7 linked regions of the Homo sapiens genome follow. The protein of the gene in region 3 purifies or fractionates together with the protein of the main gene of each other region. This does not show direct contact. Each region holds a gene or a part of one and is shown on either strand. Other genes may lie near its edges.

Region 1 (3,994 bases), on a different chromosome or scaffold from region 3:
CACATGTAAAGTGGGGATAGTATTTAATCCACAAATTATTGTGTGCATTTAACAAGGCAGTATATTTCAAAATATCTAACACGGTGAATTACAAATAGTGAACACTCAATAAATGATGTCATTGGCATTAAATTATCTGTTTAAAACAGAGACTGGGTAACGAGCAAGGTCTGCCAAAGATTTTTTTTTATATTTCATAAGTGATATTACTACATGTTAGAAATGAATCTAGTCTAATAGCTTATAAAATACCTTGTAATCTTTTTATTTTCTTTTTACACGTTTTGACCAGATGAAAAATCAACCAACAAAAAATGTGGTTTCTATACAAAACTATTAAAGTGTAGGCAACACCATACTTAAAAACTCAGAGCACAGTAAGGAAAAACCTCTTTGGTATTACTTATTATTCTTCATAAATGCACTTGGATTTTCTTAGTCAATAAAATATTTAAGGACTCAACACGGTGCTCCTAGACCTACTGAAAAGCAGGTGAGAAAATGAGCTAGACAGACTCCTGTAATCAACTTGTTCTTTAGCTTCAGGCTTGATGTAGTAACAATGAAATGACTCACACCAATATGAAATCACTATACCATATAGCCATCTCCTAAACAGAAGCAGGAAATCTGAGGTGTGAATGATAATTTTACATGCCGTCTACCAGAACACACACAAAAGGAAAGTGGCTGCTCATATTTACCTTAGCAAGAAACTTTAAATCACTAAAAAATATTCAGTTCAACTGTTTCCAAAAAGAGATTAAATAAGCAGGCATTTAATTTCTTCTATTTTAAACTACAGCAAAAGTTTCTTTGGAAAGAATCGCTTCTTTAGTTTAACAGTTCTGTTTATTTTTCCAAAATGAGTGAATCATATGTAATACTTATAAATTTTTAATGACTGCAAAGCATAGAAAATGTGCTCAATCTAAGATTTTAAAATAAAATAAGACACCAAGTACTGCCAGCCGCAGTGGCTCACGCCTGTAATCTCAACCTTTTGTAAGGCCGAGGTCGGCGGATAGCTTGAGCCCAGGAGTTGGAGACCAGCCTGGGCAACATAGCAAAACCCCGTCTCTACAAAAAAATACAAAATATTGGCCGGACGCGGTGGCTCACGCCTGTAATCCCAGCACTTTGGGAGGCCGAGGCGGGCGAATCACCTGAGGTCAGGAGTTCGAGACCTGCCTGGCCAACATGGTGAAATCCCGTCTCTAATAAAAATCCAAAAATTAGCCGGGTGTGGTGGCGGGCGCCTGTAGTCCCAGCTACTCGGGAGGCTGAGGTGGGAGGATCACCTGAGCCTGGGAGGCAGAGGTTGCAATGAGCAGAGATTGTGTCATTCCACTCCAGCCTGGGAGACAAGAGCGAGATACCGTCTCGAAAAAATATATATATATTTTATATATAATATTTATATGTATATTATATATATATGTATATTTTATATATATATATATATATATATATATAAAATTAGCTGGGCGTGGTGGCGGCTGCCTGTAGTCCCAGCTACTCAGGAGGCTGAGGTGGGAGGATCACCTGAGCCCGGGAGGTCGAGGCTGCAGTGAGCAGTGATGACGGCACTGCAAACATGATGATGAACAACTCGGGCACCAGACACTGTTCGCCACAACTAAGAAAGCCAAATAATACCTACTTTCTTATTCTCTTTCCTGTGTTCGAAAACATACATAACACGAAGTAATGCTTTAAAAAGGAATAGCAAGTACAAATATGTTAGACTATCTTTTCTAAGTAGTTTGCTTCAACTTTTTTTTGGAGGACATGAGGAGTGGAAGAGGAAACTAATGGGAGTCGGAAAGTGGGCTCTAGTTATTTTTACAAGCGTATTTATTTTGTAAGTCAACTAGATGGAGGCGAAGAAAGACGTTCCAGCGTTCGGGTTCACTTCACACACACCCCAGCACTTCTTTGGGGTTCACTTTAAACACACACACACCCCAACACTTCTCTCGGGTTCACTTTAAACACACACACACCCCAACACTTCTTTCGGGTCCACTTTAAACACACGCTCCCCAACACTTCTTTCGAAAAAACTCCAGGGCTGAGACCGACCCTTCCTGACAATGCAGCTCGTCCAGACACCCCTGCTACTCTGATCTGTGAAGAGCTCGCGCTAACGTTCCCGTCTTAGCAGGTCCATTCGGCACCCCAAATCCGAAAGGGCCTGCAGAAACCGGGGCGGGGCAAGGGTCTACCTCCGCCGTGGCAGAAACTGATTTTCCTCAGAAAGCCTAAAAAATCATCCATCAATCACTCCGGCCCCCTTCCCCGAGAGATGCCGCCGCCCGCCGCCTCTCCCCAGGCTCTGGGTCTGGCGCAGGCCCGGAGGGCTGGCGCCGTCGGCTTCTCCCCGTTACCCGGGTCCGGACCCGGCGCCTACGGGACGAGCTGCTGTAACTCCCCCGCATCCGCCTCCCCCGGCCGGGGCGGCTCCCGGCGCCGGGTCTCCGACGGGCAGAGACGCCCCCCGCCCCGCTCACCCGCCCGGGTGGTGTCCGTCAGGTCGTGGTTGGCCGCTCCCCGGGGAAACTCCCTCAGTTTCCGGCCGCTCAGGCTCAGCACCCCAGTGACCGCCGCCTCCTCCAGGGCTCGATCGAGAGAGCGGCTCCACGAGCCCGGGCCAAAACCAGGGCCTGCCCCGGAGCTTGGGCCGCAGTGAACACCAGGGAGGTTACCTCCCGACGCTACCGTGCCAGAGTACTCGGCAGCCGCTGCCACAGCGACCAAGCCCGCGGCCGCCATTTCCCAGCCGACAACACTCGGGCCCGCCAGCTCAGCGCATGCGCGGCCGGACCGCTGGGTGGGCGGAGAAAGGGGCTCACGGACCGACCCCGGACGGTTCCCGTGATGGGCAGCACCGTGGTGCCCCCCGGCGCAGCCAGGCGCTTGCCCCCGCCCACATGATGCGCTTTTCAAGGGAAGTTAAAACGGACCTCACAAATCCAGAGCAGCCCCCTACTCTAACCTCCCAGGGGCATTTCTAAAATGCCTCTACAAAAACATCTTTCAGGCAACGCTCCGCATCAAAACTTCTCCGCCTTGCTCCCTCAGTAGTGGAGGAGTCGACTAAGCATTAAATTAAGAATTTTTTTTTTTTGAGACAGAGTCTCGCTCTGTCGCCCAGGCTGGAGTGCAGTGGCGCGATCTCGGCTCACTGCAACCTCTGCTTCCTGGGTTCAAGCTATTCTCCTGCCTCAGGCTCCCGAGTAGCTGGGACTACAGGCACGCACCACCACACCCGGTTAATTTTTGTATTTTTAGTAGAGACGGGGTTTCACCATGTTGGCCAGGATGGTCTCGATCTCCTGACCTCAAGTGATCCGCCCGCCTCTGCCTCCCAAAGTGCTGGGATTACAGGCGTGACCTACCGCGCCCGGCAAGGAATCTTTCTTAACACTGCTGCTGCAGAAACTTGGATGGTGAGAGGAGCGGACCCTCTGAGATACGACCTAAACCGTTTCCCAACTTCATTGTATTACCAGATGATCTAAATCAAGGTTTGGTGGACTTACTATGGTTGCTGGAGAGAAAACAAACAAACAAACGTGCTAATTGGGCTCAAAATTCTCATTAAAAACGTATTATTTTATATCATCCATCCCTTTTATAAAATAGCTTTTCTTAATGAAAATACAACAAATATCTTCAATAGTACTTGTACTTTTGGCAAGATTTTATTGTTGGATAAAGCAAGATTATAGTAGTATTAAAATCTAAAATGTTGGTCTGGAACCAAAATTGAGGAACAGAAAATGATCTCACTGTAATCTAAATGTGGGAATTAAAGGTAGAACCGAAGAGATGCTCTAAATTGAAACCACTCAAGAAATGAAAGAGTGGAAAATACTTCATTTAAAACCAATTAGACCTCACTTATATTGCAGCCAGTCTCTAGCATATTCTTCAGTCTGTTTTACTGAAGAAGCCATTTCTGCTATATGATGTAAATTTTACCAACAAT
Region 2 (3,947 bases), on a different chromosome or scaffold from region 3:
CCTGCGGGCCGCGCGCAAACACCGCCACGTCTTCGCCTCCGTGGGTCTCGGACGACAGGGGCACCGCCGCCTGCTGCTGGTAATCGGGGCTCCCTGGTAGGAGGGTGAGTGCACTTCAGGGCAGGCAGGCGGCGTCCCCCTCCCGCGAATGCCCCCATCCCTGGCACCCTGGTCCCCCTGCACGGGCCATTCAGCCTCACTCACCGCTCTCGCTCTCATTCACGTCTGGTCGCACGCCTGAGTTGAACACGTAGCCCGGGCCATTGCCGTACAGGATGGACGTGTAGGCTTTGCTGTCCTGAGCCTTGCTGGGGGCCAACCCTGTAGGGAGATGCGGGTCCCTGTAGTTGAGCTGACCACAGCTGTGGGAGTGCCTCCTATGTGCCAGGCACCGCCACTTTTTGCCTGTTCGGGGGCTCGGTCCTCACAAGATCCCTATAGGGCTGGTGCCAGCATTGCACACTTTTGACAGAGGAGGAAACTGAAGCTCAAACTTCACCCTCATAATTGATGCAGCAGCACCTGCCACTCTCCCCAGGCCTACCGAAGATGGAGCTCCCTCGCAAGGTGTAGCCACCAAAGGAGAAGACATGGGAGTGGTCAGCGGTGACGAGGGTCAGCGTGTCCTCCTCGCTGGTGAGCTGGCCCGCCCTCTCAATGGCGTCGTCGAACATGACCGCCTCAGTGAGTGCCTGGTAAGCCACACCCTCATGATGACCATGGTCGATGCGGCCGCCTGCAGGAAGGCCAGAGGGGGGTGATGCTTGAACCTGCCCTGCCGCGCCCCGCCTTCCTCCACTCCCCAGGGGCCACCACGCACCCTCCACAAAGAGGTAGAAGCCGCGGGGGTTCCTGCTCAGCAGGCGCAGGGCAGCCTCTGTCATCTCCATCAGGGAGGGGTCCAGTGTGGGGTCTCGGTGGATCTCATATTTCGTGTCTCCGGGCTCAAAGAGGCCTGTGGGACAAGGAGCTTGGTGGTGATTGGCAGGCTGTGAGCGGGAGGGTGCTGGCAAATGGGCACACAGGCTCGGATGGCACCCTCTGAGGTTGTCTGAGGAATGCCAGGGCAGGAAGGGGGTCATTACCCATGAGATGGGTCACAGACTGGTCCAGGGACGCCTGCATGAGCTCAGTGCGGTTCCACACATACCAGGCACCCTGCAGGGACAGAGCCAGGCTTCAGCCCACAGCCCTGAGACCCACACACTTGGCCTCCCCCTGCCGTGCCTCCCACACCCACCAGCCCCCATCACCTGGTGCTTTGCCAGCCATTCCTGCACCAGGTTCTTCCCGTCCAGCCTGATTCCATTCTGGCTGGCATCAGCTGGGTACTCAGGGTCTGGGGTCCCCATGGGAAACATGTACTTGCGGCCTCCGCCAAGGATCACCTGAGGACAATGGATGGGGCAGGTGGTTTGGGGGCCTGGCTGGCCCCGTGCCCCCTCCTCATGCATAGCCCCTGGCTCCCCTCCCCAGGGCTGTGGGAATGGCCCAGCCTGTATTGCACATTCTACATCCCCAACTCCACCTCCAGAACCTGCTGACCCAGATCAGGCTTTTGGTTGCCTGGATCTGAGCCTGTGCCACCTTCCCCTCTGCCCAGCCCCAGCCCTTGGCCCGGGGGTCGCACGTCAATGTCCATGTTGGAGATGAGCTGAGTGGCGATGTCCTGGCACCCCTCCTGGCGGGCTGAGGCAGGCATGTCAGCATCTGAGTACCAGTTGCGGTTCACTGTGTGTGCGTAGGTGCCGGCTGGCGAGGCGTGCTGCACCCGTGTGGTGGTCACCACTCCTACTGACTTTCCTGAGGGTGACAGAGGTCAGGATCGGTGACCGAGATCTTGGGCCTGGTCCTGACCCCACAGCGGGCCCCAGCTCACCTGCTTGCTTGGCCCGGTTCATCACGGAGATGACCTCATTGCCGCGTGTCGTGTTGCACTGGTTAAAGCGGGCGGCTGCACTCAAGCCGATGGTCTGGAAGTTGGCCTTGACCCCGCACAGGTAGGCCGTGGCTGTGGCTGCGCTGTCTGGCACCTGTCTGTCCACATTGTATGTCTGCGAACGGAGACACCCTGAGCTCTACTTCGGGGCGGACACCCAGACCCCAACCAAGGACCTGGTTCTGGTCCTCTGGGATCCTAACTGCTCCCAGCTCCTAACTTAGGCCCCAGCTGTCCTGGCTCCCTCCCTCCTGCCACACTCCATATCCTTGATCCCTCTCCTCTGCTTGGAGGACTCTGAGGTGGCCCAGCCCTTACCTTGGACAGAGCCAGGTATGGGAAGCGGTCCATGGCCAGGGGCGTCTCAGGCCCCAGTTTGCCATTCTTCTGCCCCTTTAGGATCCTGGTGGCTGTCACCGTGGGCACCCCCAACCCTGAAGGAGCAGAAATGTGTGAGTCCTGGGCCCCAGGGTTGTCCTGGAACCACTGAAGGTCCCGGGTGCCGGGGCTGTGAGGACTACGGGGCTGGACAGGCCTTGCTCACTCACCATCGCCCAGGAAGAGGATGAGGTTCTTGGCGACCTTCTGGATGGGCTGCAGCTTCTTGGCAGCATCCAGGGCCTCAGCTGCCTGGCGGTTCCAGAAGGCCGGGTTCTCCTCCTCAGCTGGCCAGGGGGAGAGTAGAGATCAGGTCAGCCTGGCTGAGGGGGTGCCCTGTGTGTGGAACAGCTTGGGGAGCCTCATTACCTGGGATGACGCCCAGGGAGAGCTGTAGCCTCAGGCCCAGCAGCAGCAGCACCCAGGGCCCCTGCATGTCTTGGGGGCAGCAGGAGGGAGGCGAAGTGGGGACACCAGGAACCGGCTGCAGCGCAGGCTGCCTGGGTTTAAATCAGGGGAGGACTTTGCCCCTGGCTGTAAATGCTCCACGTCCCTCCCCACACCCCTGGTGTCCATCTTGACCCCGCCCAGTCCTGTGACCTGAAGCCAAGCTTGCTGAAGGGAAGGGACTGGGTGTGGCTCACAGTGTCTTGTGGGAGACGCGTTGCCACTCCTTCATTCACCTCATTCAAGGTGTGAAGAGAGGTGAGACTGGAAACACACAGCCTAGGCCAGGGCCCGGGTTAGGGCTCGTAATGTCACGAGCCCCAGAGGAGTGTGAAAGGAGGCACACTGGGTGGCCTGGCTGCCCTAGAACCCACTTGGTGTATATGGGTGCCCACACCTATGTCCTGAGGACGCAGGCTGGGAAGGGGCCAGTGCTCTGGGTCAGCCAGACCTGGGCTGGGTCTTCCAGAGCAGCCTGTGCACTTGAGGTTGACCCCTGTTCCCTTGCACAGGTAGATGGAGCCTGGGGTGAGTCTGTTTTCCATGGGCCCCGGGGAACACCCAGAAGTGTAGCCTCTGATAAGGAGTTCAGAGAGTTTGGTAACCTCAGGCTGAGTTCAAAAGTATTGCTTCAGTCCAGACATCCCACTCTGAGTGTGTAGCCAAAGGAATGCGAACTAGGGACTCGAACAGATAACTGCACACCCATGTTCCCAGCAGCATTATCCACAGCAGCCAAGAGCTGGAAGCTACCCAAGTGTCCAGCAAAAGAGAAATGGAGAAACCAAACAGGGTGCACACATACAATGGAGTATCACGCAGCCTTGAAAACAAAGGCGACCCTGACACCTGCTACAACATGGATGAACCTTAGGACATTATGCTCAGTGAAATATACCAGTGCAAAAGAACAAATACGCACGAACACACTTCTCTGAGGTCCCGAGGGGAGTCAAATACATAGAGACAGAAGTGGAATGGAGGTTGCCTGAGGCTGAGGGAGGAGGCAATGGGTTAGGGTTGGGGTTAGGGTTAGAGTTGGAGTTTAATAGGGACAGAGCTTCAAGGTTGCAGGATGAGAATGTTCTGGAGATCAGCTGCACAACACTGTGCGTGTACTCAACACTGCCGCCCTGTACACTTGAAAATGGTGAAGGAGGTAAACTTGATGTACCGTGTTTTG
Region 3 (3,500 bases):
GTTGCAATCATAGCTCACTGCAGCCTTGAATTCCTACGCTCCAGCCTCAGCCTCCTGGGTATCTGGAACTATAGGTGTATGCTACTATGCCCAGCTAATTTTTAAATTTTTTGTTCAGATGGGGTCTCCCTGTTGCCCATGCAGGTCTAAATTCTTGGCCTCAAGTGAGCCTCCTGCTTCAGCCTCCTAAAGTGTTAGGATTACAGGCATGATCCACCATGCCTCACCAATATATTTTTAATAACTCTCCAGATAATTCTGATGTAAAGCCAGGTGTGGGGGTCACTGCCCTGTCAGACAAGGATCAGGAGGTATACTGCTGACTTCAGACTTATTCCAAAATGATATCTTATTCTTTTTTTTTTTTTCTTTTTTAAAAGATGGAGTCTCGCTATGTTGCCCAGGCTAGAATCAAACTGGGCTCAAACGACCCTTCCACCATAGCCTCCTGAGTAGCTGGGTCTACAGGCACACGCCACCATGCCAGGCCTGAAAGGAGATTTTAAAATGAGATAGATAAGGGAGCAAAAGTGAGCACATTACTATTCAGGAGAAAGGGACTACACAGAGAGCTCTCCAGAGAAATTTTAAAGAGGAATTACAGCCCAAGAGGGAATCACAGGGCAAATATGAGAAGACCCTGAGTTCCGCCAGGGATCTGCTCAGAGGGAGGAGTCGCATCAAAATCACGTTCCCTCTCTGAGCCCTAGTTTCCCCAATTATAAAAACAGGCCGCTGAATGTCTACTATCTAGTAAGTTCATTGTGAATAATTCTGCAACATGTGGCTGTTAAAACTACTCTTCAAGATGAAGAAAATAGTTTTGTCAGTTGTGCCACTGATAATTCTGCCTCATTCATGGAAAGGAGCAGAGTAGCTCTGACATTAAGAAACACTGGGACATTTGTGTCAGGGTTTAAAACTAACTCTGCTTCAAAATCACTGAGAATCTTTGCCATGATACGTACTTTCTTAAAACTGAGTTGTCCACTTTTTCTTTTAGCTTTTTTTTTTTTTTGGTGGGGAGGTGCGGAATCACTCTATTGCCCAGGCTGGAGTGCAGCAGCACAATCATAGCACAGTGCAACCTCGAACTCCTGGGTTCAAGCAATCTCTCTGCCTCAGCCTCCTGAGCAGCTGTAACTACAGGTGTGTGCCGCCACACCCAGCTAATTTTTTAATTTTTTTTTTTTTGTAGAGACAGGGTCTTGCTATGTTGCCCAGGCTGATCTTGAACCCCTGGCCTCAAGCAATCCTCACATCTCGGCCTCTCAAAGTGCTGGGAATACAAGCATGAGCCACCGTGCCCAGCCTTAGCATTGTTTTGAACATGAAATCAGTTAATGTTTTGCATGCATTAACTACATGTAAATATGTAAAGCACTTAGGACAGTGACTGGCATACATCAGGTGCTTAGTAAACATGAGCTATTATTACTGTTAAGACTTCTAAACCACTGTCCAGAAAAAAAAACACAACATGGCATTCTAGAAATAAAAAGCATCACAGAAAAGCCATGATTTTTTTTTACCATTCAATAGCCATGTTATGAAACATTGTTCTTGAAAGAAACTGATCTTTCTATTGGGCTGACAATATATTCTTTTTTGTTTGTTTTGTTTTTTAGAGACAGTGGTCTCGCCATGTTGCCCAGGATGGACTTGAGAACTCCTGGGCTCAAGTGATCATCCCACCTCAGCATCCTTAGTAGCTGGGACTGTAGGTGTGCGCCACTACGCCCAGCTACATATTCTTTGTTGAACTCCAATCCTTCTGCATTCTTGACACCCCTATCATGTCCCCTCTCTGAGTTCTTACCATTCTTGCAGATGCTGACATTCAGAACTCCTGAGCCCAGGCAGTTTCCCTCAGGTATACAGAAGCCGGCATTGTCTGACGTATTGGCTAATATTTCTGCAGGAACTTTATACCGAAAGGCAGGCAGTCCCTGTACACTCTCATAGTCACTGAAAGTAATATACACTGACCTGTTAGGATGTAAGAATAAAAAGTGAATGTGGACTCTGGTCAGTGTAATCTGCCCGAAATCCGCAAGTTAGCAACAGTTCTCAGGTACAACATGGCCAAAAGCTCACAGGGTAAGTAGAAAGGAATGTTTGGAAGGCATTCTGTCAACTCAACGTGTAATAAAGCAGAAGATGAATTGTAGTGGAAGGTGTTTATTGTAGCAACGGTGATATCATCCAAACAAGAAAAAACAATATGTGGTACAAAATTAAGATGATAACATTTAGAATGGAGACTCACATAAAAAAGAAATAAGAGGCCTCTCTAGACCTGCATGGACATATGCCAGTGTGGACGGGCCACCGGCAAAGCCAGGGAAGCCAGGGCACGGCAGAGCCAAAGCTAAGGTAGAACAGGCAGCGATGGCCGTGGCCTCGTAGGGTCTTAGGCACTTGAAAAGTGTCACATTGGACAGATACTTTATTGGAATACACACTTTGATACTCAATCCCCCCCTCCAAGAAAAATCAGATTCCATATTTTGCCCCAGTCATTTATTTAAATGGAGTTCAACGTAATTCTGCCTTTCATTCTTACTGATTTCAAACATAGTCCCATGTAATATGACCACTGCTTACACTGCATAGTGCCTAACCACTTTGATGTACACAGTCACCACTGAGCCTTCAGCCCTTCCTTTGAAGGCTGGCCGGAAGAGCCTTCTGGGCCTCACTTTTTCATCTCTGAACCAGAGCTGTTGATACATCTCTCGCAAGGTTGTGAATAACATAGGTGGTTTCACTGCACAAACCAAACCACCCCTACAGCATTTTTTAATGAAAAATTTTAGGCACCAGAAAGAGATAAAATACTCTAACAAATACCTTTGTATCTGCCACTTAGACAAATAAAAATTATATTATGGATATAACTGAACCTGTCTACGTAATGCTCTTGATTCCATTCCTTCTCTGCCTCCCCTGAGGAAACCACTCTGCTGAAATATGGACAACAGTATCTTTTATTTGGCTTCCATGTAGAGACTACCTATTGACTGGAAGTAGACCAGGTCAGTTGATGCTTGACAGAGCATATCATAGTAACTAAGAGCCAACACTTAATATTGGTTACTGTGTGATGGGCCCTGGGCTAAGTATTTGACTAATACTAACTCATTTGTCCTCATAACAACCTCTAACATAGTTAACAATTTCTATCTTTGTTTTACAAATAAGGAAAGTGAGGTACAGAGTGGTTAAGTAATTTGCCCAAGGTCACACAGCTATAAGTGGTAGAGCCAAGATTCAAACCAACAGTCAGAAGTCTGTGCTGTGAACCAGTACACTATACTGTCTCGATGTGCCATCAGCATTTATCACTGATTATGCATAAATATCCATGCATAATAAGTGTGTCTGCATATATTCCTCATGCTTTTGGTGGTCTTGCAGTGAAAGACCTTATTTTTGAAAAAGAACTTATCTTTAAAGCTTTTACCTGCAAAAGTCAGATGGGAAGACATAAAGGACCT
Region 4 (3,500 bases), on a different chromosome or scaffold from region 3:
GGTCATTGATTCCTCAGTGTGACCTGGTGTCTGGAAGAGCTCTTTGAAGCCAGCCAGATCTTCTAGAGCCTTGGCCTTTTCTTTAGGAGTTTGTGGCCGTCTCTTGCTGCCAGGTAAATTTCCTAGCAGGTCCAGTTTCTCCACTGGAGTCCCCACAAATGTGTTGATGTCTTTCTCTTCACCTACTGCTGCTTTAGGCGTGTGCATGGCTTTGCCTGCTGATGGTGTTAGTTTCCTGAATGCTAAAAATTCTTCCTCTACGTCTGCTTTCTTGAGGCTTCTCTTGGGCCGTTGCTTTGTGTTTGTTGGGGTGTCCGCTGGGTCTGATTGCGGAGATTTGCAGAGTATTTTTTTGGTAGTTTTCTCATCAGTCGTGGGGTTATCAGTGCATGGTGTCTGGAAAAGCTCTCTGAAGCCAGTCAGTTCTTCTAGAGCCTGGGCCTTTTCCTTACGAGTTTGTAGCCGTCTATTGCTGCCAGGTAAATTTCCTGGCTGGTCCAGTTTCTGCACTGGAGTTCCCAAAAACGTGTTGATGTCTTTCTCTTCACCTACTGCTGGTTTGGGTGTGTGCATGGCTTTGCCTGCTGATGGCGTTTGTTTCCTAAATGCTAAAAATTCTTCTTCAGTGTCTGCTTTCCTGAGACTTCTCTTGGGCTGTGGCTTGGAGCTTGTTGGGGTGTCCACTAGGTCTGGCTGTGAAGCTCTGTAGGATACTTTGGTAGTTTTTTCGTTAGTCATTGATTCCTTAGTGTGACTTGGTGTCTGGAAGAGCTCGATGAAGCCGGCCAGGTCTTCAGGGACTTCAGACTTTCCCTTAGGAGTTCTCAGCTGCCTCTTGCTGCCAGTTAGACTTGCTGCTGAGTCTAAGATCTGCTTTGGAGACTCCATAAATGCTTTCATGCTCTTACCATCTCCTGTTGGCTCTGTGTGTGTGTGTGTAGTCTCTCCTGATGTCTGTGTGAGCTTGCCAACTGCTAGGAGCTCTTCTTTCACGCCCACTTTCCCCAGGGATGTCTTGAGCCGTCGCTTGGAGCTTGCTGGGTTTTTGTCTGGGTCTGGTTGTGAAGATTTGCAGGCTACTTTGGCAGTTTTATCGTTAGTCATTGATTCCTCAGTGTGACCTCGTGTCTGGAAGAGCTCTTTAAAGCCAGCCAGGTCTTCTAGAGCCTGGGCCTTTTCCTTAGGAGTTTGTAGCCGTCTCTTGCTGCCAGTTAAGTTCTCTGTCAGGTCCAGTTTCTGCACTGGAGTTCCCATAAATGCGTAGATGTTTTTCTCACCACTTACTGCTGGTTTGGGTGTGTGCATGGCTTTGCCTGCTGATGGTGTTCGTTTCCTGAGTGCGAAGAATTCTTCTTCTACGTCCACTTTCCTGAGACTTCTCTTGGACTGTGGCTTGGAGCTTGTTGGTGTGTCCACTGGGTCTGGTTGTGATCTGCAGGCTATTTTGGTAGTTTTCTCGTGAGTCGTGGGCTTGTCAGTGCATACTGGTGTCTGGAAGAGCTCTTTCAAGCCAGCCAGGTCTTCTAGGGGTTGGGCCTTTTCCTTAGTTTTTGGGTGCCTCTTGCTACCAGTTACACTTGCTGCTGGGTCCAGTTTCTGTTTTGCAGTTTCCCTAAACGCGTTGATGCTTTTATCCTCACCTCCTGGTACTTTATCTGTGTGTGTGGTTTCCCCTGATGTCTGTGTGAGCTTCTTCAGGGCTGAGAGCTCCTTCTGTACGTCCCTTTTCTCCAAAGGTGTCTTGGGCTGCCTTCTTGTGCTTGTTGGGGTGTCTGCTGATTCTGGTGGAGAAGATTCGCAGGGCATTTTAGTAGTTTTGCCAGCAGCCACTGCTTCTTCAGTATGACCAGGGGTCTGGAAGAGCTCTTTAAAGCCAGTCAGGTCTTCCAGAGCCTGGGCCTCTTCCTTAGGAGTTTGTGGCCGTCTCTTGCTGCCGGTTAAGTTCTCTGTCAGGTCCAGTTTCTGCACTGGAGTTCCCACAAATATGATGATGTCTTTCTCTTCACCTACTGATGGTTTAGGCGTGTGCATGGCTTTGCCTGCTGATGGCATTAGATTCCTGCACGCTAAGAGTTCTCCCTCTACATCTGCTTTCCTGATACTTCTCTTGGGTCGTTGCTTTGTGCTTGTTGGGGTGTCCACTGGGTCTGACTGTGGAGAGTCGCAGGGTATTTTAGTGGTTTTACCAGCAGCCACTAATTCCTCGGTGTGACCAGGAGTCTGGAAGAGCTCTTTAAAGCCAGCCAGGTCTTCTAGAGCCTGGGCCTTTTCCTTAGGAGTCTGTAGCTGTCTTTTGCTGCCAGGTAAAGTTCCTGCCAGGTCCAGTTTCTGCACTGGAGTTCCCATAAATGCTTTAATGTCTTTCTCATCACCTCCTGCTGGTTTGGGCGTAAGCATGGCTTTCCCTGCTGATGGTGTTAGTTTCCTGAGTGCTAAGAATTCTTCCTCTACATCTGCTTTCCTGAGACTTCTCTTAGGCCATTGCTTTGTGCTTGTTGGAGTGTCCACTGATTCTGGTGGTGGAGATTTGCAGGCTATTTTGGTAGTTTTCTCATCAGTCATTGATTCCTCAGAGGGACCTGGTGTCTGGAAGAGCTCTTTGAAGCCAGCCAGGTCTTCTAGTGACTGGGCCTCTTCCTTAGGCGTTCTTGGCCACTTCTTCATTCCAGTTACACGGGCTGCTGGGTCCAGGATCTGCTTTGGAGACTCCTTAAACGTTCTGATGCTCTTGCCATCTCCTGCTGGCTCTCTGTGCGTGTGCGTGGTCTCCCCTGACGTCCGTGTGAACTTGCCGACTGCTAGGAGCTCTTCTTTCACACCTACTTTCCCCAGGGATGCCTTCAACTGTTGTTTTGTGTGTGTTGGGGTGTTTATTGGTTCTGGTTGTAATGACTGGCAGGGCATTTTAGTGATTTTGCCTTTCTCACTCTTTGGTGCCTTGGCATGATCTTGGGTTTGGAGGAGATTCTGGCCACGTGCCGTGTCTTTCATGAGTTCTGTATCAGGCAAGCTCTTGAGGTCTGTCAGGTCAGACATTGGTGCACATTTCTGCCCCCAAGTTCTTGATCTCTTCATTGCTTTCATCTTTTCATCGTTTTCTTTTAATTCAATATTTTCCTTATATGTCTCAAAAGGTCTTTCTATTTCCTTCATCTCTCCTTCTCTCCTTTGTTGTAGTAGTGTTGCCTTCTGACCTCTTTTTAGGATGCACTCAACAATTTCTGTATTTGTTTCTTCACTCTTACTTTCCACAGGTAGCTTCTGTATATTCCTGAACTCTGTAGACCTTCCTGACCTGTTTGCAGTGGATACTGTTTTTGAAGGCTCTGTCTCAGTATCTGAAGTTTTTGTCTCCAGAGAAGTCATTTTGTAGGTGTTCCTGGGCGTTTTTGCTACGTTTCCATTTTCTCTAATACACTGCCGTCTTAAGGGAGGGCTTGCAGAGCATTTATCAGATGGCTGTTTTGCTGCATTCTGTGCACTGAAGAACACATTTCCTC
Region 5 (3,500 bases), on a different chromosome or scaffold from region 3:
ACTGAGTATTTACAAATGTATTCAGCATAAATGTAACCTTCGTGGGTGAATCAGAACTCATTAGCCATACCCACACTAATAATAATTATAAAAGGTAAATACAATTCCTTTCTTTCATTTGCTTATGCTGGTTGTTGTGGGTTGACATTCATGTGAGGAGGATGTCCTAGAAGACCAATTCTTTGTTTCTGCTTCCTTTGTTCTGTCATCTGGAAAGTTAAAAAGTTTCATCATTAGACCCAGATACTTCCTGTACGTCAAATCGCATACTGAACCATAGATTTACCTCTGTGGTTATGGTTTATACTGAAACCCACTTTCTACAAATAGTGTACCATCGCTATATCAAACACACAGCACTTCAAAAAAGGCATCTTCTTAGGCAGAATGGGAAATTCTGTGACCTAGTCATGCAATGTAACATTCAGAAGTATTGCTTGCCACTTGTTTCATAAAGAAACAAAAAACAATAAAAGCACAGGATTCTTTCTTGTTTCCCAAATGCACTTCCAAATGATTTGAAGACTCATTGGAAAATGGTGGCTTTGTACGATAGTAACAACACGCCATACTAACAAGAAAAGCAGTGTTTAGAATCCTAGGTTTGAGAGGGAGGGTTCGTGTCCACACTTTCAGTGGGTCCTGATTTTTCTCTTCAATGACTCTTGAGTAGTTGGTTAGAGAAAAAAAAAATTACCTACCATAACTAGGAAAATGAGAAATGTTCTCAAATCTCTTTGAGGTCCAGAATGATTAAATGCTGTAAATAATGCTGTGACCATTCACGGTATCTATTTCTTGCCACCCAGTAGACACTGAGGCTCGCTGAAGGTCAGGCGAGACCATTGCCTAAGACTAGTTCAAATGAAAAAGTACTTTCAAAATCCCAAACAAGAAGCCGATTCTATTCATTTGGTTGCTGAACTAAATATATTCTCATGTTGATGGGTCTCTAGACCTGTTCTAGGTATTTTAGGGCATACTTACTTCTGTCTCTGTATTAAGATTTTCCTTAACCCAGTTAGTCTTAGTTTTGGATTTTAGGGTGAGCATTCAAGTCAACTGAGATAAAAAGGCTATACGGAATATATATTCAAGAAAATTGTTGTCTGCAAGTGGGTTAAGGTCCTACTCCTATGTTTTTAGCTTCCTAAAATTGTAGAGGAATTAGGGTAAAAAGAATAAAGGCTTTGGAATCAGATCTAGTTTCTTATGGTTTTGTCATTTAACTTATCAAAGTCTGTTTTCTCATCCATACAATCAGGATGATAATTCCTAGCTGATTGGTGGAGAATTGCGAGGTTATACGCAAATTTATTAGCATAGCATCTGTCACATAGTAGATGTGACACTTAATCTCACTTTTCACATGAACTCATTTTTGGTACAAAATATCTGGAGAGAACATAAAACAAGACTAATTTACCTAGGTTCAATTTCAATGTGGTTATTTTTTCTTCTTCAAAACTAGCATTATCCTCTCAAATCAAAATACTATTTTTAGGCTCCTGTGGAGATGCTTTCTCTGTTATAATTTAGATGAGAAGACTTACAAGGACTTAGTATTTCCAAAAGGTAGCTTTTAATAAAGCTTTTAATTAAGAATTGGATTAGGAAATTCCAGCTAGCCCCTGAAGTTTCCTTAGGTGAGTGACATCTTTAAAGGAAGTGTTACACACTACACTGTATCCACAGATTCGGCTCAGGAAGGAGAACCTAATATGACACATGAAATAAATTCACAATTAGGTTAAAATGCCAGTAATTCATTCATCTTACTACCTGATAGTTCAGATGTTTAGCTCAGATTTTTCTCCCACAACCCTTCCCTTGGCAGGTAACCTTGAGAGGGAATCCAATACAACTTAGCTAAATTTGGATAATCTCAAGTGTTCAAATTGATTTAGAAATCTTGGTGTGCTCAGCCAGGTGCAGCGGGCTCACGCCTGTAATCCCACCACTTGGGGAGGCTGAGGTGGGCAGACTGCTTGAGCCCAGGAGTTCGAGACCAGCCTGGGCAACGTAGCAAAACCCCATCTCTACCAAAGGGGAAAAAAAATTAGCTAGGCATGGTAGCGTGCACCTGTAGTCCCAGCTACTTGAGAAGCTAAGAGTGGGAGGATCACTTGATCCTGGCAGGTGGAGGTTGCAGTGAACAGTGATGATGCCACTGCACTCCAGCCTGGGCAACTGAGATCTTGTCTTGGAAAAAAAAAAAAAAAAATCTTGGTCTGCTCAACCCTTATTGAAGGATACTTTACTCAAAGCTTATATTTAAAGCTGCTGAAATCTTTCAACTCAAAGTTGAATGTCAAAGTTGGCCATTAAGACTTTTTTCCCCTGTAATTTTGCTTTAAATAACTACTTGTATTTGAGATGACCTTTTAGTATGCGTATTTTCATCCCTGTTTGTTACATCAGCTCTCCTTGACTTTTCAATTTGTCAGTTAGTCTTTCTCTTCAACTTGAAGAAACCTCTGAAACTTTACAACAAAGGAGTCTTCAGTTGGTGGCCTGGCTTCCTTTTCACTTCCACAGCCGCGGCCTGATGCCTCCTCAGTTAGCAGCCCTATTCATCTGTCTTCATAAGTGATCCCATCGCCCACCCTCCCTCCGTCCCTATCCTTAAGGCTCCCCACTGATGTGGGTTATTGGCCAATTCTTTGCTCAGGTAGTCATATTCCTGATAATTTTAAGTACCAACTACACATCTAATGTTCTTTTCTGTTTCTCTAGAAGAATGGTTCTCAAACTTCAGCATGCGCCAGAATCACCCAGAACATTTGTTAAAACACAGATCAGAAACAGAGTTTCTGACTCAGTAGGTCTGGGGTAGGTCCCATGAATCTGCTTTTCTAACGATTTCCCAGATGATGTAGACGTTGCCGGTCTGGGGACTACACTTTGAGAACCACTGCTCTAGAAGAGGTTTTTCACTGATAATCTCCAAAATCGGACAAGATCATTTTGAGTATATACTTGAACACTTTTTTTAAAAAAAGTAATTTGTGTACATATATTATTTTTCTCAAATGAGGGAAGCTCTTGGAGAAGATTGTCTGCAACTGAGCATATAGTAGGCACACACATTTGACTGATACTCTTTTGATTAACCATGGCCTTTTAGACAGAATGGCTGTCATTTAAGTCAACATCACTGCCATTTAAGTGACTGCTAAAGGAGAAGGAATTGGGCAACTGCTAAAGTGTTTGGCCTTTTAGTAGCAGTCATCATCCAATTACAAGAGAACCAAAAAAAAAAAAAAAAAAAAACCCCTCAAAACCCTGAAGGACTAAATCTGACCTATAAGAAACTGAGGCCAACAATTCTGGACGCTTAGGTTTCTCCAGCCTCTTAGTGCATATTCTCACATAATTTCTGGTTTTATTAGTTCAATTCTTCTTATCTACTTACCTACCCCACCTACATACATTCACACGTACTATCTATATATCTTGTTATAAGGCATCATTATTGTCTGTTACTCTTACCTACATCA
Region 6 (4,292 bases), on a different chromosome or scaffold from region 3:
TATAAATGTAAGTCTGTACAGCTATGGGCGAAACAAAGGAGGAGTGGTCAGGTACACTTTGAGGAGGAGGCATAACAAGAAATAATTCATAGGTCTTTCCACAACAGAACCTCTAGCACCACCTTGCTATCAGTCCTTTGCACATTTCCTCTAGCCCCAGATCCCCTCTCACCTTCAGAGATTCAATCGTGGCCTGCTTGTAAACCTTTCCTCCAGAATCTTTCTTCTGAGGGCTATTCTGGATTCTAGGCGTTCGAATGACGAATTTATCCATTGTTAGGGGACTCCGACTACCTTGACGTGCTTGCAGCGTGTTCTGGTCAAGAAAGAGGGCAGATTCTAAAACCCCACTAAAGACTGCCATGATATTTTTTCCCCAAAGTAACACAATTGAGTTCTCTGGAAGAATTCATGAATTATGGGGCCTCGAGTGGAATTGACAGGAAGTAAGATTTTCTCTTTAAAAGAAAGATCTTCCGAAGAATTGAAACTGTAATCAATCATCAGTCTACGTCCTGAGTTAGGAGGTTCCTAGCTTCCAGAAGTGCACGCTCTAGCGAGGATTCCAACATTGGGGGAATTGGCCCAATATTGGAATCCCCGCTAGAGCGTGCACCTAAGCCCTCTTCCAAATAAGATTGGGCTGTGAAAGGGTTAGGATTACATTAGGCTCAGTGACGCCCTCTTAACAACCACCTCACCACAGCCATAATCCCAAGGGTTGCCCTGGTAATCAGCAACCGACAACCACCTCCAGAACTCAGCAGAGGGTCTCACAATACGCAGCATCCCCTAGAACAAACTGCTCGGTGGTCAGAGGACCCTACCCACGGCTGTAATCTCTGGATCCCCGAACAAGGAGAAACCCCATCCTCCTCGTTCCCAGCACTCAGGAGCCCGGGTAGGGGCACCCAACAACGGTCTGACGTGAGACCCACCAGGAAAAGCAGCCCTGGTAGCTGCTGTTGGCGCCCTCCAGACTGCAACCTCGTAGGCTCCCAAGCCCAGTCGTCTGTGTTGAAACTAAACAGACGCTTCCTCCCAGGGCGGTAGTTCCTCTGAAGAAACTCCGCCGGCCCTCGCGCCTCTGGGCCACAGCGAACCACATTCCCCAGAATGCACTGCGAAGAAATGCGGGCGGAAGGCGCGCTGAGGGCGGCTGTAGTTTTCCGAGACCAACTTTCCCGACAGCACCGTGCGCCTCCCGCCTACGGAGAACTACATGCCCCAGCCTGCCCCGCGAAGGGAAGAAGTCAGGAGGCCCCGCTTCGCGCTAACGCTTGCGATGGTTGAATTCCCCTCCTCACGCCAGCCTAGGAGAAGAAGTTCGTAGTCCCAGAGGTGAGGCAGGAGGCGGCAGTTTCTGGCGGGTGAGGGCGGAGCTGAAGTGACAGCGGAGGCGGAAGCAACGGTCGGTGGGGCGGAGAAGGGGGCTGGCCCCAGGAGGAGGAGGAAACCCTTCCGAGAAAACAGCAACAAGCTGAGCTGCTGTGACAGAGGGGAACAAGATGGCGGCGCCGAAGGGGAGCCTCTGGGTGAGGACCCAACTGGGGCTCCCGCCGCTGCTGCTGCTGACCATGGCCTTGGCCGGAGGTTCGGGGACCGCTTCGGCTGAAGCATTTGACTCGGTCTTGGGTGATACGGCGTCTTGCCACCGGGCCTGTCAGTTGACCTACCCCTTGCACACCTACCCTAAGGTAGGGCCCGTCCGGAGCGGGCTGCGACCCTTCCCTTGCAGCCCATTTCTCGGCTCCCCACACGTATGTCGGCTCTGGCAACCTGGCTGTTAAATCGGCCCTTCAATCGCTGTCTCCCATCTGTGTAGCTCCTGTTTTCCTCCCTAATCCTGCCTGCACCCCATTTCTGCTGTCATTACCGGAAGTTTGTCCTGCACTACCCTGTGATAGGCTGGGGGACACAAAGATGAGAAAGACGCGATCCCTTTCCTCTGGGAGCTTGCCGGGCTGCAGGGGAGTCGAGCACTCGGAGGAGGATAGGGGAGGATATGGATGATTAATGCGGGGTCCTCACCTAAGGGAGCGTAAGGGGGGATTGTAGAAAGGGAGGCGCAGATACGCGAGTCCACAAATGATTGATTGATAACCCTTGTTTACTAAGCGCCTCTCGGGGCCAGGAGCGCAGTCTTCGGGGAGTCAGACAAGTAGACGATTCCACTGTGGTATAAAAAGCGTCACGAAGGCAGCTCAGGGAGTAGCGAGACGCTCAGGAATGCTGTCTGCCTATGTTGAGTTACTGTGTCCAAGACGCTGCCAAGAGGGACTGGGTTAGAGAAGAGGCAATTAGGTGTCTGCCTACCAGAAACTGACCACTCAGTGCAGAAAACGGGGAATTCGTGGAGTGGGTGAAGAAATGAGACTGTGGACAGGAGGGGGTTCGCAGCTTACAGAGAGGAATGGCCCTCCTCTCTATGCTTCCCCCCTTTCTTTTAATTACATACCTAACCCTCTTCACGTTGGTTTTTCAGCCTAAGAACTCTGTTTACTCAACATTCTAAATTGCTTGATGATTCCCACCACACCTTTCCCATGTATGATTTGAGTATATGCCCTCCCCCACGTTGTTTTATGAGAGCTTTTGTTGATGTTGCTGGTGGTTTCCTCTTCGTTTTTCCTTCATCTCCTCTATGCTATTTGCTTAACCATTGTGGCTGGACCTCCTTGCTCTCTAAAACTGGAGTGGCTACGGAGACAGTTCCAGTGAAGCTTAGGATGTTCCATATTGGCGAGTATTTTCAGGTCTTTGAAATGAAAAGTTCTAAGTGCCGGCACTTCTCAGATTTTGTTACGGCTGGATTTTAAACTGCATGGAGATTATCAATTTTCAAAAAAAAGTGTGGGAGAAGGGACTGTACTAAATTTTTCCAGAGATTTATGTAACAATCGAGAAAGAAGTGAGAAGTTTTAACTTCAGACTTAAATCAATGAATACTGCTTCTAACCACGTTATTTTTCTCCACCTCTTGTAAACTTCTCATCATTAAGAGGATTGTATGAAGAAGCTCATTAATATTGATTTGGCCTGGAATTGGGTTGAGACTTACTTTCTATTGTTCTAGGGTTTGTTTCCTTTTTTGGGATTTTCTCGGCAATTTTGTGGTATAAACCAGAATGTTGGGAAAATAATCAAATAATTTGAAAGGATACCTTCCTGGAAGTTGTAGGTACTTTAATAATGTCCACTATTTTCTAACAATTGGTGTTATATCTATAAACTATTTTTACTTATTTATTAAAGCTTTTCTCACAAAGAACTCCAAATCATCTGGCTCCCTATAGGTCCTGGACTTGAAATTTATATAGACTCCACTGTTAGCCAGAGTGATGGGAGATTTATCATACCATTATCCCTAATTCTCACAACAACCCTGTAAAGTAGGGTTTTAAAATTAAGGAAATTGAGGCTCTGAAAGGTTAAGTGACTTGCCTAAGGTCACATACCCAAGAAATAGTGGAGCAGGAATTCAGCTTAAAACTGGCTACACTATGCTGCCTCCTATTAATAAACTTGCATTAAACATATTCGGCCGGGTGCGATGGCTCACGCTTGTAATCCCAGCACTTTGGGAGGCCGAGGTGGGTGGATCACCTCAGCTCAGGAGATTGAGACCAGCCTGGACAACATGGCAAGACCCCGTCTCTGGAAAAAAGAAAAACAAAAAAACTAGCCAGGCATGGAGACGAGCACCTGTAGTCCCAGCTACTCGGTGGGAGGCTTGCTTGAGCCTGGGAGGCGCAGGTCGCAGTGAGCCGAAATGTCGCCAGTGCACGCCAGTCTGAGAATGAGACCGTGTCTCAAAAAAATAAAAATAAAAAAATGCCGGGCGCGGTGGCTCACTCCTGTAATCCCAGCACTTTGGGAAGCTGAGGCGGGTGGATCACCTCAGGTCAGGAGTTCAAGACCAGCCTGGCCAACATGGTGAAACCCTGTCTCTACTAAAAATACAAAAAAATTTAGCCAGTCGTGGTGGCGGGCGCCTGTAATCCCAGCTACTCAGGAGGCTGAGGCAGGAGAAGCGCCTGAACCCGGGAGACAGAGGTTGCAGTGAGCCCGCGCCACCGCACTCCAGCCTGGGCGACAAGAGGGAAACTCTGCATCAAAAAAAAAAAAAAGAAACATATTTAATTATGTCACTGATTTCTATTGGCTCTCCTCTGTGCTTTGTGCTCCAGGAAAAAGCACTGTGTATTGTAAGAAATTAGATGAATTTTCAAACTCACATAGCGTTTGAAAAACGAGATAGAAATCTCGTTTTAGGCTGGGCGCGGTGGCTC
Region 7 (3,500 bases), on a different chromosome or scaffold from region 3:
TGTTTCCAAAATGGGGAATGGGGAGAAAGTGGTAGTGCTGAGACTTACTTTGCCATCCCAGCCAAGTGGCAGGTTTTTGGGGTTGTAAATGATCTCGTTCTCTTCATCTTCACTCTCACTCTCACTGATCTGCTCTTCTTCCTCTTCTTCTCGCTCTTCTCCTGTCCTGGCTTGCTTGCGCTGTACATTTTCATGAGTGAGATGTCGCTGTTCCTAAAGCAGGTCCATAAATGAAAAGTCAGAAAAAAGTAGTGCAGAATAAGAAGGGAAATTTCCTGTTTTCCTGTAACTTTTGCTGACCCCTTACTTCCAAGGATAAGGTTCTTTCTTACAGAATAAAGGAAAATCTTGCCTTCATATCAGAACTCCTTATCAGCAGGCTCTACCTGATCCCAAAGAAAAGAGTCAAAGGTTTTACATCACTTGCCTAATTACTCATCTGAGGCTATTATAGAACAACAGAAAACAGTCTCATCTATTCTGACTCTAAAATATTTCCTGGCTGGGTGTGGTGGCTCACGCCTGTAATCCCATCACTTTTGGAGGCTGGGGTGGGAGAATCACTTGAGGCCAGGAGTTTGACATCAGCCTGGGCAACACAATGGGATCTCATCTCTACAAAACATTTACAAATTGGCTAGGCATGGAGGTGTGCACCTGTGATCCCAGCTCTTTAGGAGGCTGAGTTAGGAGGACTGCTTGAGCCCAGGAGTTTGAGGATGCAGTGAGCTCTGATCCCGCCACTGCACTCCAGCCTGGGCGACAGAGTGAGACTCCTTCTCAAAAAAAAAAAAAAAAAATATGCACACAATACAGGAGCACCCAGATTCATAAAGCAAGTCCTCAGAGACCTACAAAGAGACTTAGACTCCCACACAATAATAATGGGAAACTTTAACACCCCACTGTCAACATTAGACAGATCAACGAGACAAAGTTAACAAGGATATCCAGGAATTGAACTCAGCTCTGCACCAAGCGGACCTAATAGACATCTACAGAACTCTCCACCCCAAATCAACAGAATATACATTCTTCTCAGCACCACATCACACTTATTCCAAAATTGACCACATAGTTGGAAGTAAAGCACTCCTCAGCAAATGTAAAAGAACAGAAATTATAACAAACTGTCTCTCAGACGACAGTGCAGTCAAACTAGAACTCAGGATTAAGAAACTCACTCAAAACCGCTCAACTACATGGAAACTGAACAACCTGCTCCTGAATGACTACTGGATAAATAACGAAATGAAGGCAGAAATAAAGTGTTCTTGGAAACCAATGAGCACAAAGACACAACATACCAGAATCTCTGGGACGCATTTAAAGCAGCGTGTAAAGGGAAATTTATAGCACTAAATGTCCACAAAAGAAAGCAGGAAAGATCTAAAACTGACACCCTAACATCACAATTAAAAGAACTAGAGAAGCAAGAGCAAACACATTCAAAAGCTAGCAGAAGGCAAGAAATAATTAAGATCAGAGGAGAAGTGAAGGAGACAGACACACAAAAAAACCCTTCAAAAAAAATCAATGAATCCAGGAGCTGGTTTTTTGAAAAGATCAACAAAATTGATAAGACCGCTAGCAAGACTAATAAAGAAGAGAGAAGAATCAAACAGACGCAATAAAAAACGAAAAAGGAGATATCAACACCGATCCCACAGAAATACAAACTACCATCAGAGAATACTATAAACACCTCTACACAAACAAACTAGAAAATCTAGAAGAAATGGATAAATTCCTGGACACATACACCCTCCCAAGACTAAACCAGGAAGAAGTTGAATCCCTGAATAGACCAATAACAGGTTCTGAAACTGAGGCAATAATTAATAGCCTACCAACCAAAAAAAAGTCCAGGACCAGACGGATTCACAGCCGAGTTCTACCAGAGGTACAAAAAGAGCTGGTACCATTCCTTCTGAAACTATTCTAATCAATAGGAAAAGAGGGAATCCTCCCTAACTCATTTTATGAGGCCAACATCATCCTGATACCAAAGCCTGGCAGAGACCACAACAAAAAAAAGAGAATTTTAGACAATATCCCTGATGAACATCGATCCAAAAATCCTCAATAAAATACTGGCAAACTGAATCCAGCAGCACATCAAAAACTTATCCACCATGATCAAGTTGGCTTCATCCCTGTGATGCAAGGCTGGTTCAACATACGCAAATCAATAAACGTAATCCATCATATAAACAGAACCAAAGACAAAAACCACATGATTATCTCAATAGATGCAGAAAAGGCCTTTGACAAAATTCAACAGCCCTTCATGCTAAAAACTCTCAATAAACTAGGTATTAATAGGATGTTTCTCAAAATAATAAGAGCCATTTATGACAAACCCACAGCCAATATCATACTGAATGGGCAAAAACTGGAAGCATTCCCTTTGAAAACTGGCACAAGACAGGGATGCCCTTTCTCACCACTCCAATTCAACATAGTGTTGGAAGTTCCGGCCAGGGCAATCAGGCAGGAGAAAGAAATAAAGGGTATTCAATTAGGAAAAAAGGAAGTCAAATTGTCCCTGTTTGCAGATGACATGATTGTACATTTAGAAAACTCCATTGTCTCAGCCCAAAATCTCCTTAAGCTGATAAGCAACTTCAGCAAAGTCTCAGGATACAAAATCATGTGCAAAAATCACAAGCATTCTTATACACCAATAACAGATAAACGGAGAGCCAAATCATGAGTGAACTCCCCTTCACAATTCCTTCAAAGAGAATAAAATACCTAGGAATCCAGCTTACAAGGGATGTGAAGGACCTCTTCAAGGAGAACTACAAACCACTGCTCAACGAAATGAAAGAGGACACAAAGAAATGGAAGAACATTCCATGCTCATGGATAGGAAGAATCAATATTGTGAAAATGGCCATACTGCCCAAGGTAATTTATAGACTCAATGCCATCCCCATCAAGCTACCAATGACTTCACAAGCTTACCAATTTCTTCACAGAATTGGAAAAAACTACTTGAAAGTTCACATGGAACCAAAAAAGAGCCTGCCTTGCCAAGACAATCCTAAGCCAAAAGAACAAAGCTGGAGGCATCACGCTATCTGACTTCAAACTATACTACAAGGCTACAGTAACCAAAACAGCATGGTACTGGTATCAAAACAGAGATATAGACCAATGGAACAGAACGGAGTCCTTGGAAATAGTATGACACATCTACAACCATCTGATCTTTGACAAACCTGACAAAAACAAGAAATGGGGAAAGGATTCCCTATTTAATAAATGGTGCTGGGAAAACTGGCTAGACATATGTAGAAAGCTGAAACTGGATTCCTTCCTTACACCCTATACAAAAATTAATTCAAGATGGATTAAAGACTTAAATGTGGGCCGGGTGCGGTGGCTCACGCCTGTAATCCCAGCACTTTGGGAGGCCAAGGTGGGTGGATCACCTGAGGTCGGGAGTTCGAGATCAGCCTGGCTAACATGGTGAAACCCTGTCTCACTAAATA

The links.
Region 1: the proteins of SCARB2 (region 3) and LRCH3 purify together in Homo sapiens (affinity purification with mass spectrometry; one large-scale study listed by BioGRID and IntAct). This does not show direct contact.
Region 2: the proteins of SCARB2 (region 3) and ALPI purify together in Homo sapiens (affinity purification with mass spectrometry; one large-scale study listed by BioGRID and IntAct). This does not show direct contact.
Region 4: the proteins of SCARB2 (region 3) and MKI67 purify together in Homo sapiens (affinity purification with mass spectrometry; one large-scale study listed by BioGRID and IntAct). This does not show direct contact.
Region 5: the proteins of SCARB2 (region 3) and ITPR1 purify together in Homo sapiens (affinity purification with mass spectrometry; one large-scale study listed by BioGRID and IntAct). This does not show direct contact.
Region 6: the proteins of SCARB2 (region 3) and TMEM59 purify together in Homo sapiens (co-immunoprecipitation; one large-scale study listed by IntAct). This does not show direct contact.
Region 7: the proteins of SCARB2 (region 3) and SF3A3 purify together in Homo sapiens (affinity purification with mass spectrometry; one large-scale study listed by BioGRID and IntAct). This does not show direct contact.

Annotation. Positions count from the first base shown.
Region 1 is NC_000003.12:197,790,060-197,794,053, reverse strand, and holds the start of LRCH3 (DISP complex protein LRCH3), read right to left. Parts: upstream 2,801-3,994; 5' UTR 2,776-2,800; coding exon 2,514-2,775; intron 1-2,513. UniProt on the Homo sapiens protein: As part of the DISP complex, may regulate the association of septins with actin and thereby regulate the actin cytoskeleton.
Region 2 is NC_000002.12:232,455,006-232,458,952, reverse strand, and holds the start of ALPI (intestinal-type alkaline phosphatase precursor), read right to left. Parts: upstream 2,801-3,947; 5' UTR 2,754-2,800; coding exon 2,687-2,753; intron 2,605-2,686; coding exon 2,488-2,604; intron 2,374-2,487; coding exon 2,258-2,373; intron 2,055-2,257; coding exon 1,880-2,054; intron 1,804-1,879; coding exon 1,631-1,803; intron 1,389-1,630; coding exon 1,254-1,388; intron 1,159-1,253; coding exon 1,086-1,158; intron 956-1,085; coding exon 821-955; intron 737-820; coding exon 545-736; intron 322-544; coding exon 205-321; intron 94-204; coding exon 1-93. UniProt on the Homo sapiens protein: Alkaline phosphatase that can hydrolyze various phosphate compounds.
Region 3 is NC_000004.12:76,172,325-76,175,824, forward strand, and holds part of SCARB2 (lysosome membrane protein 2), read right to left. Parts: coding exon 3,467-3,500; intron 1,990-3,466; coding exon 1,820-1,989; intron 1-1,819.
Region 4 is NC_000010.11:128,105,924-128,109,423, forward strand, and holds part of MKI67 (proliferation marker protein Ki-67), read right to left. Parts: coding exon 1-3,500. UniProt on the Homo sapiens protein: Protein that associates with the surface of mitotic chromosomes and acts both as a chromosome repellent during early mitosis and chromosome attractant during late mitosis.
Region 5 is NC_000003.12:4,842,848-4,846,347, reverse strand, and holds part of ITPR1 (inositol 1,4,5-trisphosphate-gated calcium channel ITPR1), read right to left. Parts: intron 210-3,500; coding exon 123-209; 3' UTR 1-122. UniProt on the Homo sapiens protein: Inositol 1,4,5-trisphosphate-gated calcium channel that, upon inositol 1,4,5-trisphosphate binding, mediates calcium release from the endoplasmic reticulum (ER).
Region 6 is NC_000001.11:54,050,405-54,054,696, reverse strand, and holds the start of TMEM59 (transmembrane protein 59 isoform 2 precursor), read left to right. Parts: upstream 1-1,492; 5' UTR 1,493-1,508; coding exon 1,509-1,697; intron 1,698-4,292. Other genes in the region: TCEANC2 (transcription elongation factor A N-terminal and central domain-containing protein 2), read right to left, coding at 173-274.
Region 7 is NC_000001.11:37,969,523-37,973,022, forward strand, and holds part of SF3A3 (splicing factor 3A subunit 3), read right to left. Parts: intron 214-3,500; coding exon 49-213; intron 1-48. UniProt on the Homo sapiens protein: Component of the 17S U2 SnRNP complex of the spliceosome, a large ribonucleoprotein complex that removes introns from transcribed pre-mRNAs.